2 separate regions of the Homo sapiens genome follow, and region 2 is linked to region 1. Evidence: fine-mapped expression QTL. Tissue or cell type: whole blood. Region 1 holds a variant in brackets; the other region holds the start of a gene. All regions are shown on one strand. Distances are between the middles of the regions.

The links. PIP is the estimated chance that this variant, and not a neighbour inherited with it, causes the effect.
Region 2: TBCD starts here. The variant in region 1 is fine-mapped to the expression of TBCD in whole blood (INTERVAL, PIP above 0.99).

What each region holds. Positions count from the first base shown.
Region 1 is chr17:82,932,617-82,940,707 of GRCh38, forward strand. TBCD (tubulin folding cofactor D) reads left to right here. Exons shown (of 39, transcript NM_005993.5): 34 at 42-119; 35 at 4,655-4,744; 36 at 5,433-5,520; 37 at 6,751-6,860. Among named protein-coding and RNA genes, the nearest start is that of ZNF750, 97 kb to the left of the region's middle. The variant C/G (reference allele first, on the strand shown) is at 4,149.
Region 2 is chr17:82,748,421-82,756,511 of GRCh38, forward strand. TBCD (tubulin folding cofactor D) reads left to right here and starts at 3,645. Exons shown (of 39, transcript NM_005993.5): 1 at 3,645-3,957; 2 at 7,745-7,795. The coding sequence starts at 3,774. It overlaps FN3K (fructosamine 3 kinase), which reads left to right. Exons shown (of 6, transcript NM_022158.4): 5 at 435-557; 6 at 1,997-2,776. The coding sequence ends at 2,335. RefSeq lists silencers at 2,837-3,196, 3,887-4,206 and an enhancer at 6,553-6,847.

The DNA of each region.
Region 1 (8,091 bases):
GTTGCTGGTGTCCAGGGTCTCACAGCTCCTTCTCCCCTCAGGGTGTCCGTGCCGCTGCTGAAGACGCTGGACCACGTGCTCACCCACGGCTGCTTCGACATCTTCACCACGGAGGAGGAGTGAGGCTCTGCTTTTCATGACTTCCTTTCCGATTAAGCCTAAGTAGCTCATGTATTAAAGAAAAAGTCATCAGACACAGAGATCAGAATTCCAGGAAATGATCTTCCAGTGCGTTCTGGGTCAGTTATGGTGACTGTAAATACCGTCATCACAGCTGGCCCTCAAAATAACGCAATAATAACATATTTACATAATGACATATTATGACTGTAAGTGCAGTCAGCCCCATCTGGGGCTGAGGCGGGGGCCCTGCTGTGCACTCTCCCCCCAGCTATCCCACCGGGCCAGGGGTGGGCCTCAGGGTTGTGCTGGGAGCCGCAGGGCCTGAAGGGGCCTCGGCTGTACGGGGATGAGACTCGCAGGGGAGAGGGCAGAGGCCGGTGACCTGGCGAGGACTTGCCCAGGAGATTGGAGCTCCTTGCTTCTGCGCCACGCGGATGCCCCAGGCTGGTCTCAGCTGGGTTGTTGGCTCTGAGTGGTCATCTCGTTGCTGCCATATTTTCTTGCTTCATTGAATTTCACCGTGTTGGGCCAGTCTTTTTTTTTTTTTTTTTTTGAGACAGGGTCTAGCTCTGTTTCCCAGGCTGGAGTGCAGTGGCACAATCACAGCTCACTGCAGCCTCTACCTCAGCCTCCCAAGTATCTGGGACTACAGGCATGCGCTGTAGTCTAATGTACGGCTAATGTTTGTATTTTTAGTAGAGACAGGATTTCACTATGTTTCCCAGGCTGGTCTTGAACTCCTGGCCCCAAGTGCCTGCCTTGGCCTCCTAAAGTGCTAGGATTACAGGTGTGAGCCACTGCGTCTGGCCTGGATATATTTGTATCTGGGGCACGTTGGGTCATCCGGAGACAGCGTGGTCTGTTTTTGGGGGCACTGCTTTTTTTTTGTTTGTTTTGAGATGGAGTCTTGCTCTGTTGCCCAGGGTGTAGTGCAGTGGCTCGATTTCAGCTCACCGCAACCCCGTCCCGGGTTCAAGCAGTTCTCTCGCAGACTTCTGAGTAGCTGAGATTACAGCTGTGCACCATCACACCTGGCTGATTGTTTGTATTGTTAGTAGATACAGGGTTTCACCACATTGGTCAGGCTGGTCTCGAACTCCTGACCTCAAGTGACCTGCCCACCTCGGCCTCCCAAAGTGCTGGGATTACAGGCGTGAGCCACTGAGCCTGGCTTGGGCGCTACTCTTAAGCTGTCAGGTGGACCCAGAGCTGTGCTGGTCTCCAGGGTTTTCTGCCCCTTTAAGGTCTCTGCTCCCTGGCGCTTCCCTTCCCACCGCTGCTGGGGCAGTGCCGGGGCTTCTGGCCATCTTTTGGGTGGTTCGTCCCCAGCCTTGGACAGCGTCCTCGTACTCAGGTACTGGCTGACCCAGGCCCAGGTTAGTCCTCAGCGGCCCCCAGGAAGCCCCCTCTGGTGCTCAGAACCTGAGCGAGCTCTGCAGACTTGGAATTTCCCGCTTCTCACCACGGGCTTCCCGCTGGAGTCTGCCACCTGCTGGACTTGGCTCTGCCTTAACCTTCGGGCGGGAGGCAGATCTGGTCTCTGTTGCTCCATCTTTGCTGGACGCTGCACATGTTTTTAAATCTAACAGCATTGAAGGGTTTCCCCTTTTAATTTCTTAATGGGGCATCACTGACTGACCTTCTTACACCTGCTGTTGGAACAGCCTCCATGTTCACAGGTGCACCCAGCTCGGTTGTGGCGTATTATCCTTTAATACAATGCTAAATACTCCATTTAAATTTTTTTTTTGAGATGGAGTTTTGCTGTTGTTGCCCAGACTGGAGTGAATTGGTGCGATCTCAGCTCACTGCAACCTCTGCCTCCTGGGTTCAAGTGATTCTCCTGCCTCAGCCTCCCTAGTAGCTGGGATTACAGGCATGTGCTACCATGCCCAGGTAATTTTGTATTTTTAGTAGAGATGGGGTTTCACCATGTTGGTCAGGCTGGTCTCGAACTCCCGACCTGAGGTGATCTGCCCACTTCTGCCTCCCAAAGTGCTGGGATTATAGGCGTGAGCCACCGTACCTGGCCTAAAATATTGACATATATTTTTCTGGCTTAAAAATTTCAAAATAAGCCTGGGCGCCATGGCTCACGCCTGTAATCCCAGCACTTTGGGAGGCCAAGGCGAGTGGATCACTTGAGCTCCGGAGTTTGAGACCAGCCTGGCCAACTTGGTGAAACCCCATCTCTACAAAAAATACAAAAACATTAGCCGGGTGTGGTGGTGCCTGTACGGCTTGGGCCTGGGAGGCGAAGGTTGCCGTGAGCTGAGATTGAGCCACTGTGCTCCAGCCTGGGCAACACAGCCAGACTCTGTTTCAAAAAAAAAATTTTTTTTCCAAGATAGGATGGTAGAGAAAATACCTCCTGCCATGTCCTGCTATGAATACAGCTTTGTATTTCTCTCTACAGTTTTGTCAGTTTTGGCTTTTCAGATTTTGAAGCGTGTTTGTGGGCTGAATCTTGCCCTTATCACCCATTTCTAGGATGCTTTTTGCTCCACTCATTCTTTGTCTTGCTTCACTTGACTTTGAACTGTATACTTTTTTCCATCGTTTTACTTTCAGTATCTTCATACATGTATGTTTTTGTACGCCTCTCTTAGAACAGTGTATGGTTTTGTAAAAATTCAGCCTGTAGCTTTTACCTGCCTCCTTCATGACCTTTATAATCCCCTTGGTTCTCAGCCTGCCACTCACAGGACTTTTCCCTGTGCTGCGTTCCCAGTGCCCCCTCCCCGCCCCCACCTGTGCTTTTTGTTGGATTAGTAGAATTGCTTTTGTCATTCCATTGTTTTCATATATTTGTTTGGGACATTTTACTTTTTTCTGTTAACGCTTACCCTAGAAATTAGAAATGACACCACGTATTCTTAGCGAAGTCCAGTTTTCAGCATTTTGTCCTTATTGGACAATAGCAAGGATATTAGAACGTGTTGGTTCCGCGTGCTTCCGTCTTGAGTTATGTGCTGCTATTGTCGGATATTTTGTCTTAGATGTACGTACTTTCCTGTTCATTGTGGTATGTGTAATTTGCGTTACTTTGAATTTTCCACGTTTTTACTTTCTTTGTCTCTCATCACTTACTGCTTTTGGGACCCCCCCCATCGGGGTTCACATTCCCTCTCCCTAGAGCACACTCCCTTGGATTTCCTCGAGTGGGGTCTGCTGCGGTGAAGCTTTCCCATTTTATGTGCAGATTATTTTCAGAGGGTATATAGAATTCAGGCAGCTGTTTCGTTGTAGCACATTAAAAATATTTTCCCACTTCCTCCTTGCTTCTGTTGTTGCTTTTGAGTGTTACCTCTGAGTCTGCCTGTGCTCCCTGGAAACGGCCCGGGTTTCCCACCCCCTGCCCAGGTTTGCTCCTTCCCTGGTTTTTCTGTCATTATCACGCTCACGTGTTTCCCTCGGTCACCCCCTCTGCAATTTTCACACGTCTTTTCCCTCTCTCTTTGCTTCATTACCTTTGGCCCGCCTGCCAGCTGCTGATTCTCTCTGAAGATGTCTCTAAATGACTTTTAACTGTGATTTGTGGAATTCTTATTGTGGAGTTTTGCGTCTTTTCAGGTGTAGGTTTTTTGTCTCGCGTGTTTCCACGTCTGCTTGTAGCGCTTTCCGCTTCGCCGTTCCCTGCGGCCCTTCCTTCCGTGCCCGGTGTTCATCCTCTTGAATGCTCTTTTCCTGCCTGTTTGGCTGGGTGTGTCTGAGTTGCAACCTGAGCGGGTTTCTTTGTCTTCTTACTTGTCTGGTATTGTGTTCTCTCGGGACGTTGCGTTTGAGGGGTCGCACCTCAGAGCAAGCCGAGGTCTGGGCTAAGCCTGTGCTTTGGCAGGCAGGACCTTAGTTTGCCTTTTCTGGGCACCTGAGGAGAGGGTAGCAGCAGCCTGGGGTCTCCTTGACTCACGGTCAGCAGTGAGGGTTTCCTGGCCTGTTGGGTGGCTGGAGCTTGGCTGCATTCCCCACTGAGAGAGGGAGGTGCGCACCTTCTCCTCCCTGGAGTGGCCTTCCAGGTGCCCTCT[C/G]AGAGCTGCTCATCAGGGCTGTGCCTTTGTCAGCACCAAGCCTCAGCCCTTGTCCCTGCTGCCACTGAAGGCTCAAAACAACACTGCACAGCCTTGTGTGTCCTCTGTGTGTCGGCAGTTTCCCCCGGCTCTGCAGCAGCCCAGGCCAGGTAGCCTCTGGAGGGAGTGGTGGAGGAGCACGGGCATCCTGGCCGCCGCTGTGTTGGGGACAGACCCTGGGGCCTGGAAAGGGAGGTGGGGCCCCGTGGGGGCTGCTGCACCACAGGCAAGAGAGCAAGAGACAGCAGAGGCCGGCCAGGTGGTGGCACAGCCGCTAGGGACCAGGCCGGCCTGTGGAGGTATTGGGATGGGGACCAGCGGACTTGCTGGCAGAGGGGCCTCAGGGCTGCAGGCTTCTTGGACTGAGCCACTGGGAGGACGGAGTTGACCTTCTTTGAGACAGAAAAAGTGTGCATCCCGGGGCTGCCTGTGAAAGCTCATCTCTAAAGTGTGTGTTGTTCTTCCAGCCACCCCTTTGCTGTGAAGTTGCTTGCGCTCTGTAAGAAAGAAATCAAGAATTCAAAAGATATCCAGAAGCTCCTGTCAGGCATCGCAGTGTGAGTTTCAAGTGCTGCTGGCCTTAGACGGAATGGCAGGGCGCAGCCTCCCTTGGCTGAGGGCAGGAGTCCACGGCTCCAGGCGGGAGAGGAGCAGTTAGTGTTACTCCTCAAGCTAACCTAAGATCGTGCATTCCAATGTTCAAAGCAGTCGCAATGGGAGGTGAGGCAGCCCAGGTGCTGGTGGAGGGAGTTCCCGCGGGAACAGGCGAGCTCTGCCTCTGCTGCCCTCGCGCTCTGCCCTGGCGGGAGGGGAGGCTCCGGAAAGGAGCTGCGTGGTCAGGGGCTGCCTCCCCGATTCTCCTGTGTGCCCTGGGGGTCGCTGTTGAGTGCCTTGCTCTGCGGCGCTCAGGTGGACACTGGGCAGGTGCGCCAGCCAGCGATAGGCACCTTGGCTGCTCTGTGGCTCCTTGAGGTGGGGGTCCTCATGGCAGGGCGAGCGGCCCTGCAGGAGATCCTCTGTGAGGCGTCCTCACTTCCCACAGTGACTTTCCAAGTGCGACACTCGTGTGTGTAGGCACAGTGCAGATGTACGCACACACACACCTCCGGCTTGGGGCCCCAGGCCCGCACTGTGCTCACGGATCTGCTCTGCCCAGGTCTCTGCATGGGCCTTTGGGTCCGGGGTTTGCTGGGGTTGGCCTGCGCGGGGTGGGGCTCACCTGGAGCCATGTGCTGCTCCCGGCAGGTTCTGCGAGATGGTGCAGTTCCCCGGCGACGTGAGGAGGCAGGCCCTCCTGCAGCTGTGTCTGCTCCTCTGCCACCGTTTCCCGCTGGTGAGTGCCTGCCCCTGCTCACGTGTGTTTGCCGTGTGGACACAAGCCCCTCAGTGACAAGAAGGCCTTCGCTGGCACTGTTGTGTTGGTGTGCTTTCCAGCCGAGCCCCTCTCGTTAACGCGCCTGGGTGACGACGCGTCACAGGCACGCGGCTGCCAAGGGGCTCTGGACGCCACTGTTCTGGCTTTAAGGACGGGCTGTCCGGCTGGCGTTTCTATGGACATACATTGAGGGGTGACCTGGCGGTGGGATCTGGCTCAGGAGCTTCCAGAAGGACCCAGGCTGAAGTGGTTCAGCCACACCTAGGGGCAGTGCCCTTCATCCCCAGCACTCCCCGGCTATTAGATTTCTAGGATTTCTTTTCTCCTGGCTGCAAAAAAAACCTCAGATGATACAAAGGTGACATTTTCCTAAAAGGCAAAAGTAACTTCATGTTGTATGGTGGTTCTCGAAGTGGGGTGCCGGACCCTCAGGCTTGGCACCTCTGGGGCTTCAGCAGTGCAGCTCTTGGGCCCTGTGCTGCCGACTCAGCACCTCCAGGGTGGGCCCGGGGCTCAGACCACCAGCGCAGTGAGACATGATGACCAGGGCACCACTCAAAAAGAGAGCAGGCGAGATTGCTTCCCTGATGAAAAGAGAGCAGGCGAGATTGCTTCCCTGATGAAAAGAGAGCAGGCGAGATTGCTTCCCTGGTGAAAAGAGAGCAGGTGAGATTGCTTCTCTGGTGAGGGAGCAGGTTGGTTAATAGATAGCGGGCGAGATTGCTTCTCTGGTGAGGTAGCAGGTTGGTTAATAGAGAGCAGGTGAGAGTGCTTCTCTGATGAAAAGAGAGCAGGCGAGATTGCTTCTCTGGTGAGGGAGCAGGTTGGTTAATAGCAGGCGAGATTGCTTCTCTGGTGAGGGAGCAGGTTAGTTAATAGAGAGCAGGCGAGATTGCTTCTCTGGTGAGGGAGCAGGTTGGTTAATAAAGCATTTAAACAAGAATGATGTCATCTTCACTGCTGGGATCCTGCAGCTAGCTGTGTGTCTGTGGAGGGAGGAGGTGGTTAATGGGCCTGGAAGGCACCTCCTCTTGGTTGCAGCCCTGCTGTGGCTGGGATGGGATGCAGGGTCAGCGTCCTCCTCCTGACGCCTTCCACTGACGGGGCTCCCTGGCCTGGGTCCTGTCGTCTCTCCGGGGTGGGGCGGTGGCGCTTCCCTCCGGCAAATGCACTGCATCCCTGTCCCAGATCCGGAAGACCACGGCCAGCCAGGTGTACGAGACATTGCTCACCTACAGTGACGTCGTGGGCGCGGATGTGCTGGACGAGGTGGTGACTGTGCTCAGTGACACTGCGTGGTGAGTGAAGGCCCTTCCTGCACGGCCACCTGGGCCTGGCACCGCCCCTCTTCCTGTCCCCACCGTGTCTACTCGTCTCTCCCAAAACCCTCTGATAGGAGGAGGAAAGAGGGTTCCCAGGTCTCCACATCCTCTGCTTAGGTTTTACAAGGCAGCCGTGCTGCTGTAGCCGAAACCTCTTCTCAACCGCCCTGTCCCCAAACAGTGTCAGGTGTCAGGAACACAGCAAAGCCATCCATCCCACCAGGGGAGCGGGCACCTGTACCACAAGGCTGTGTCTGGTGGCCTGTGGAGCAGAGGGCACTGAAGGCCTGGCAGGTGCTGCTGCCCCAGACCTCTCTAAAGTTCTCTTGGAATAGGCCGTGTGAGCACCTGTTGGAAATCAAGAGGCACAGGCGGAAATAAGAAAAGCTCTCCCCACGCCTCTGCTCTGATGTCCACCCCCTTCCTCAGGGCCATGAGGCCCTCAGGAGGCCATAGTGCCACTCTCCACGTTTACTTTGGCAGGCACAGTTTCTGCAACATGGGCTGGCTTCTTTACCATGGGTGGAGTAGAATGGCGGTTTTGAAAGATGTGTGTATTGAGTTGGGGGTGGGAGGGTCTGAATGAGAGCAGAGTGGGGAAAGTGCAGGCTCAGGTGTCCTGGGCCAACCGGTATGTTCCTGGGAACAGCAGTGATGGTGTCTTACACATATGGGCATGGGCACCCATGCTGGCTCACACACATGCTCACTTGCACGCGCGCACACACACACACACACACACACACTTCTAAAAGGGGAGCAGTCTCGTCACCCCGTGTTGGAGATCAGGACTGAAGCAACCAGAGGCTGTGTGGGTGTCCACATGGCATACCCGGGGTGGTGGAGTCCCAGGTGTCCTGCCTGTGGATGCTGCTCTGTTTTGAGTGCCGACTGTGAGGGCCTCCGTGCTGATCCCGGTGCGTTGCTACAGGTCTGTGGGGTCCACGCCCCTTGTTGAATCCAGCAAGGACGTAGGTGACGTTCCCTAGGTGTCTCCTCGGAACAGTGACCTTCCAACAGGGCTGGGTTCCCATAGAGCTCACGCACCAGGCAGCCGCTGTGGCCTCGGAGGACAGAGGTGGCCTCTCCAGGGCTTCCGCGAGGTTTTCTGGTTTGGGGAGGAGTGTGTGTCTGCTCCTAAACAAACACGTGGTCCCAGGAGAGGAACCGGGAGCAGCTGGGCTGTCTTCTCAACATGCGTTGAGAG
Region 2 (8,091 bases), 180 kb before region 1:
TGCAGGCGTGAGCCACTGTGCCTGGCCTCCAGCTTTCTTTTGACTAGTGTTAGCATGGTATATCTTTTCTATCCTTTCAAGCTTTTTTTTTTTTTAGTAGATAATGTCTTTTTGCACATAACTTATTGTTGGATTTGCTTTATTTTTCCAACCTGCCAATCTGTCATTTACCAAGAGTATTTATTTTTGACATTCGTATTTAATGTGCTTAGTCATATAGTTTTGAGTCTGTCATCTTGCAATTTGTTTTTTGTTTCATCTGCCCTTTGTTCTCTCTTTACCTGCCTTCCTCTGGGTTGAGTATTTTATGTTTCTGTCTTACCTCCTTTGTTGGCTTACTAGGTATCTTTGCTGGGTTTTGAATGGTCCCTCTAGGGTTTAGGCAGCACTTGGCTCCGAATTGCAACAGTGGCCTCTTTTCCCTTGTTGTCCAGGTGAATGAGTGGCAGGATGACTGGCCGACCTTTTTCGCCCGGCACCGGCTCCAGGCGCAGCTGGACCTCATTGAGAAGGACTATGCTGACCGAGAGGCACGAGAACTCTGGTCCCGGCTACAGGTGGGCACGGCAGTGACTTCTCTGGGAAAGAGCTGGTCCTCTCATGATCCCGCCGCATTTGTGCGGGTTCATCTGTAAAACGGAGCTGGAGCAGGGAACACTGAGTCCTGGAGCACACATCAGGGAGGAAGGGGGGCAGGGGCGGGGGTTCCCCCAAAAGGGAGTCCGAAAGGAGTGAGGAGTGAAGACACACTTGGCTCCTCGTGCCCCTCTCCACTGCTAGGTCACCAGGTATTTAGCCTCAGACTTTCCTCATGTGAAACACAGGTGCTTGTAAATGGTGGTGTTTACCATGATTACTGTTCTTACTATCAGTAACACTTGTCCACTCCATCGTGTTCCTCTCCCATGGGAAGATGTGGGTACCAGATGATCCAGAATGACTGATTTCAAAACATAACTCTCGGCCGGGCACAGTGGTTCACGCCTGTAATCGCAGCATTTGGGAGGCCTAGGTGGGCAGATCACTTGAGGTCAGGAGTTTGAGACCAGCCTGGCCAACATGGTGAAACCCTGTCTGTACTAAAAATGCAAAAATTAACCGTGCATGGTGGTGCATGCCTGTAATCCCAGCTACTCAGGAGGCTGAGGCAGGAGAATCACTTGAACCCGGGAGGCGGAGGCTGCAGTGAGGGGAGATTGCACCATTGCACTCCAGCCTGGACGACAGAGTGAGATCCTGTATCAAAAAGAAAAAAAATCAAAATATAACTCTCAAAATGTTAAAAAAGAATGTGCATGTCAATCCAGAGTGAGTATACATCAAAGAGACTTGAACTCATTAATGAAGAAACTAGGCTGGGCACGGTGGCTCAAGCCTGTAATCCTAGCACTTTGGGAGGCCGAGGTGGATAGATTTTACCTGAGGTCAGGATTTCAAGACCAGACTGGCCAATATGGTGAAACCCCATCTCTACTAAAAATACAAAAATTAGCCGGGTGTAGTGGCGGGTGCCTGTAATCCCAGCTACTCAGTAGGCTGAGGCAGGAGAATCACTTGAATCCGGGAGGCGGAGGTTGCAGTGAGCCGAGATGGCGCCACTGCACTCCAGCCTGGGTGACAGAGCAAGATTCCCTCTCAAAGAAAAAAACAACAAAACCAAACAAAACCTGCAGACATATATGTGTAGCGAAATAAAAGTGGCCAGAGTTTGCTAAGGTAGCGCAACACTGGTTCCTATTCTGTGGGTCGATTAAAACTATAACCTCAGAGGTTCTCCACTGTGTGGGGATTCTAGACCTAAATTAGGAGGAAATCCTAAGTTAGACAAAGCTAGACTCCCCTGAAGTCAGGTGGCCCCTATTTCTGGGCTTGGCAGGCAGTGCTGGGGCTGGACACCGAAGCAGATCGCGAGTGGGCTTTGCCTTATTTCCAAGAACGAGGTGATGAGACCGGGGCTCCCAGAGGCCAGCGATAACTGCAGCCGTTGCTCTCGTAGGTGAAGATCCCGGATCTGTTTTGTGGCCTAGAGATTGTCCCCGCGTTGCTCCACGGGGATCTCTGGTCGGGAAACGTGGCTGAGGACGACGTGGGGCCCATTATTTACGACCCGGCTTCCTTCTATGGCCATTCCGAGTTTGAACTGGCAATCGCCTTGATGTTTGGGGGGTTCCCCAGATCCTTCTTCACCGCCTACCACCGGAAGATCCCCAAGGCTCCGGGCTTCGACCAGCGGCTGCTGCTCTACCAGCTGTTTAACTACCTGAACCACTGGAACCACTTCGGGCGGGAGTACAGGAGCCCTTCCTTGGGCACCATGCGAAGGCTGCTCAAGTAGCGGCCCCTGCCCTCCCTTCCCCTGTCCCCGTCCCCGTCTCCGTCTCCCCGTCCCTGTCCCCCCGTCCCCCGTCCCTGTGCCCCCGTCCCTGTCCCCCTGTTCCCGTCTCCCCGTCCCTCCGTCTCCATCCCCCCGTCCCCCCATCCTCCTGTCCCCGTCCCCCCGTCCCCGTCCCTCCATCCCTGTCCCCCGTCCCCCTGTCCCCCTGTCCACATACCAATCCCCCTGTCCCCGACCCCCCATCCCCGTCCCCCATCTCCGTCCCCGTCCCCCCTGCCCCGTCCCCGTCTCCGTTCCCCCGTCCCCATCCTCCATCCCCGTCTCCCATCGCCGTCCCCCCGTCCCCGTCCCCCGTCCCCGTCCCCCCTGTCCCTGTCCCCCTTCCCCCGACCCCTCCCAGATCCTGGGGACCAATAAAGCCCGCAGCGGGTCTCGGCTGGCGTCCTGCGCCTCGTTCCTCCGCTCGTGGGGCTGCTTTCAGGGCCAGACGCACGGCGAGCTGTGCACGGACGTTTTTGCGGCGATTCAGGGGAAACGCACGCGGACCCGGTAGCCAAGGCCAAAGTCGGCGCAGCGCCCACCGCGGCCTCCGGGCCCCGCTCCCGCTCCCGCTCTGGGGCGCGCCACCACTCGGCGCGGGGCCCGTGTGATCCGCGCGGGTCCCAGCGTGGCGCGAATAAGTGTCAGGGCGGTTGGCTCTGAGGGGTGGGTCCCGGGGCTCGCCTCGCGCCCCCGACTGCGTGCTCAGGCCCCGCCCCTCCCCGTCCACGCATGCTGAGGCTCCGCCCCGCTCCGCGGTCCCCCGGTCCCACCCGCCCCCGCCCCGCCCCCGCCCCGCCCCCCGGCGTGTTGTGGCTCCGCCCCGCTGTCTCCGGCCCCACCGCAAGCCCTGCCCCTCCCACCCACGCGTGCCCGGGCCCCGCCCCCGTTGCGCGCAGCCCCGCCCCCTATCGCGTGCTCAAGCCCCGCCCTGGCGGCCCCCGGCCCCATCCCGAAGCCCCGCCCCCCCGCACACCGCCTGCTCAGGCTCCGCCCCGCTGTCCTCCGGCGGCGGCCTCACCCCGCAGCCCGGCCCACCGCGTCTCAGGCCCCACCTCCTGTCCTGCCCCGCCCACCGCGTGCTCAGGCCCCGCTGAGCGGTCCCGGCTCCGCTCGCGCCCTGTGGGGTCCACGGCGCGCTCTTCCAGAGCCTTTGGGACCCGTGCCCGCTCGCGTCCTCAAGTGCACGCGCCGTCCCGCGCGCGGTATTTTGGCGGCCGACGCGTTCCGTAGCGAGGCCGGCGAGTGGGGTCGGAGGTCGCGGGGCGGGGCCAGCGTCGGTTGCCGCCTTAGCGGGCGCCTCCTTTTCATCCCTCATCCTTCATCCCTGGCTTTCGCGCTCTAGCGGAGTGGGATCTGCGAACACGTGAGGCGGGGGCGCGGTCCCCAGGCTGCCGAGATGGCCCTGAGCGACGAACCGGCCGCGGGCGGCCCCGAGGAGGAGGCGGAGGACGAGACACTGGCCTTTGGCGCGGCGCTGGAAGCGTTCGGCGAGAGCGCGGAGACCCGGGCGCTGCTGGGCCGCCTGCGGGAGGTGCACGGCGGCGGCGCGGAGCGCGAGGTGGCCCTGGAGCGGTTCCGCGGTGCGTGGGCGGCGCCGCGTGCCCGCTTCCTCCCCCGGCCCGGGTTCGGCGCGCTGAGTGCACTTTACCGGGCGGGGACCGCAGCCCGGCGGCGCCGGCCGCTCTGCGAGGGCTGCCGGTGCGCGGTCCCGCGGGCCGTGGTGGGGCGCGGCCTTCCTAGGCGGGAGAGGGCCACCCCGGCGCGGCGTTAGGTGCACGGGGCAGACGCGCGCCTCCCTTGGGGGGACCGTGGCCCGCGGAGCGCCTGCTCTCGCACGGGGTGAAGCCTCTGCGGCCTCCCCGGGAGGCGGGGTGCAGAAGCCCTCCGTCCCCCGTCTCCGTCACTGGAGGAGGTCCCTGGGCTGGGGAGACTCGGGCCAGACCCCTCCGGACAGCTGGTCAGCCCTGCAGTGTGGACTCCCAGGCTTGCCTCCACCGAGCGCGGTTTCTGTGAATGTTGTGTGGACAGGGAGATAGGGAATGAGAGAGGGGGACGCAGGGAACAAACCTGCTGCAAACAAAGCGCGCCTCGGGTGGGGAGGGCAGCAGCCTGTCCGTTCCGTGGACGCCGTGGACAGAGCGGGCTGGCCGGGTCCGTGCCTCTGCAGGCGGGGTGGGGTGTAGGTACCCCTGTGGAGGCCATTCGATGAGTCTAAATTCTCCGAGTTCAGACCCACCTTTACCGCTGTCTATAATGGGTTATTTCCAAACAAGTCCTTAGGAGCTCATAGCTAAGTAGTTACATGGGGTTTTGTAATTCAGTAAAATCATCTTTGTAGACCCTTTGAGTAAGAAGAACTTTTGCATTATTTGGCCTTCCTCATTTTAGAATGACAGCGCTTTGATTTTAGGAGTCAGGCAGGGTGGGGGGCCTTGTGGGAGGAGTGCGGGTTCGGCGTCAGATCCTCCTGCCTGTGAATTCTGGCCCTGTCGCTTGGACCTGATACTTGATTGCCTGTTTCTTCGGGTGTAAGCTGGGGCGGATAACGATGCCTCTCGTGCAGAACTGTTCTGAGGGTGAGGGACCCTCATCCAGGGACCAGTGAAGCCAGATTTTTTGTTCCTGGTGTAACAGCCCAATGGCTTCTTCCTTTTTTTTTTTTTTTTTTTTTTGATACGAAGTCTTGCTCTGTTGCCCAGGCTGGAGTGCAGTGCAGTGGTGCGATCTTGGCTCACTGCAACCTCAACCTCTCAGGTTCAAGCTATTCTCCTGTCTTAGCCTCCCGAGTAGCTGGGGCTACAGGCGCGCGCCACCACGCCCGGCTAATTTTGTATTTTTAGTAGAGGGGGTTTCACCATGTTGGTCAGGCTGGTCTCAAACTCCTGACCTCAAGTGGTCGCCCGACTCAGCCTCCCAAAGTGTTGAGATTACAGGTGTGAGCCACTGCGCTCGGCCCCAGTGGGTTCTTTCTGCGGGCTGCCCAGATAGAGTTGATTTGTCAGGGCAGGGGAGTTGCCATGGAGAAGATTTAGTTCACGCAGAGCCGGTTGAAAGGGAGACTAGACTAGAGGTTTTTTTTTTTTTTTTTGAGGCGGAGTCTCACTTTGTCCCCCAGGGTGGAGTGCAGTGATGAGATCTCAGCTCACTGCAACCTCCACAACCTCCACCTCCCAGGTTCAAGTGATTCTCCTGCCTCAGCCTCCCGAGTAGCTGGGACTACAGGTGCGCGCCACCACGCCCACCTAATTTTTCGTATTATTAGTAGTGACGGGTTTCATCGTGTTAGCCAGGATGGTCTCGATCTCCTGACCTCGTGATCCACCCGCCTCAGCCTCCCAAAGTGAGCCACCACGCCCGGCTGGAGTTTTATTATTACTCAGATCAGTCTCCCTGAGAATTTGAGGGCCAGGGTTTTTTAGAGGTAATCTGGGGGAAAGGGTGGGGGTGGCTGATTGGTTAGGGGTATACAATCATAGGGGAGTCGGAAATGATCCTCCGTGATGTGCTGAATCGCGTCTGCGTGGGGCCCCAGGAGCAGTGGGCGGGTCCAGGTGGAGCTATCATGGGTCCGTGGATCCTAGTGTAGGTGTCAGACATGGAAACAATCTGAAAAGATATCTTTAAAGGCCAGTCTCAGGTTCTGCAATAGTGACATGGTCTGCAGGAGTAACTGGGGAACTCGCATGTCTTGTGATCTCAAGAATAATGGCTGGCAATTAGGTTACGCCTTAGCGGAATTCAGGCTCCTCTCCTCCTCCTAGCCTGGTGGCCTCTCATTAACTTTACAAAGGCAGTTGAGTTTTGGGGAAGGGCTCTTAGCATTTAAACTATAAATTAAATGTCTCCCAGAGGTAGCTTGGCAGCTTGAAGACTAAAGGCATGAGGGGGTTGCCTGGATCAGATCTGCCCCATTGCCATAATTTCCTCACAGATCACTTTTGCAAAGGCAGTTTTGCTGGGAAGCAGTGGGTGTGTTCAGATGTGGAGGTGGGAGCTGCCGGATTGGACAGAAGCAGTTTCAGCTGCTGAGAGGAGGAGAAAGCGGTGGTTCAGGGTCTGGGAGGTTGTGAAGAGCTGGCAGCTGTGTGGAAGGGAGCAGTGCCTGGATATGTCAACCAAAAAGTATCTGAGACGAGTCTCAATCAGTTTAGAAGGTTAAGGGTGTGCCCGTGAGGCAGCCTCAGGAGGTCACATGTCCCCAAGGAAGTCGGGCTACAGCTTAGTTTTACACGTTTTAGGGAGACGTGAGACATCAATCAATACCTGTAAGATGTACATTGGTCTCGTCAGGGAAGGCGGGACATCTTGGGTGGGAGGGCGTCCAGGGCATTGGTGGATTCAAATATTTCACGATTGGTGATTGGTTGAAAGAGTTTATCTGAAGACCTGGAATCCATAGAAGGGATTGTCTAGGTTAAGATAAATTGTGGAGACCAAGGTTTTTCTTATGCAGATGAAGGTTCCAGTTAGCTGGTTTCAGAGAGAATAGATTGTAAATGCTTTTCATCAGACTAAAAAGGTACCAGACTTAGTTAATTTTCTCTTGGATCAGGGAAAAGACCTAGAAAAGGAAGGGATTCTCTACAGAATGTAGCTTTTCCCAGCAAGAGACAACTTAGCAGAACCATTTCAAAATATGTCAAATATATTTTAGGGAAAAATATTTTGATTTCTTTCAGGGCCTGCTGTCTGTCATGTGATGCTGTACTAGAGTCAGGCTGGAATTTGGTGTCTTATTGCTACTTAAGATCGGTTTTAATGCTAATACTGATCAGCTGTGCCTGAATTCCAACGAGAGGAGGGTATAATGAGGCCTATGTGGACCACTCCCCACAATCCCTTAATATCATGAGGCCTGAACTAGTTTTTCAGGTTAAGTTTGGAATGCCCTTGGCCAAGAGGAGGGGTCTGTTAGATGGCTAGGGGGCTTAGAATTTTGTTTTTAGTTTACAGGCATGTTTGGCAGGGGAGTGTGAGAGGAGTGCCAGGGATGTGTGTCTCACAAGGACAGAGTTGAGCTTGGCCCTTAACGGCTGGCAGAGGCAGGAGAGAGTGAAGGAAGGAAGAGGCGAGGAGGAGACTCTGTTAGGAAGAGTATCGAGGCAGTGGGAAAAGAGGAACAGTGTGCCAAGCAAGTAAACTGCACGAGGCTGGGCCACAGTGGCCCTCAAAAGGCTAGAGGGAGGTGGGGCATTCCCTCCAGGTGGCCTGTGTGGCCTCCTTTAGTGAGAGGGGAGGTGTGCTCTTGAGAGCTGGGGAAGAGGTGGAGCTGCCCTGTGGAAGCTAGCAAGGGAAAATGGGGTTTCTGAGGCTCATGGGTATGTTTGGCCTAGTGATAATTAATTTTCATGTTATATTTGTTTTTAGTAATAATGGACAAATACCAGGAGCAGCCTCATCTGTTGGACCCGCACCTTGGTAAGAATAGAAGCTGCTGATTTTGATCATTCAGTTACAGATGACCACGGAGGCCTTGGTGTGTGGTGCTGGCACATGCATGTGCTTTGCCAGGATCAAATGCCAAGAAGTGTCCCTGTCTTGCTTGCCTGGCTGGTTGGTTTTAGCCGACCTGTGATAGTGGCTTGAGTTCCAGATGTCACTCTAGGCTGGGGGGAGATGTGTCTGAGCTACTTAATTCCTTTCTGCTAAGGAAACAACATCTGCTCCTCATGTGTTTTTTTTGTTTTTTTTTCTTTTTTTTGAGACGGAGTCTC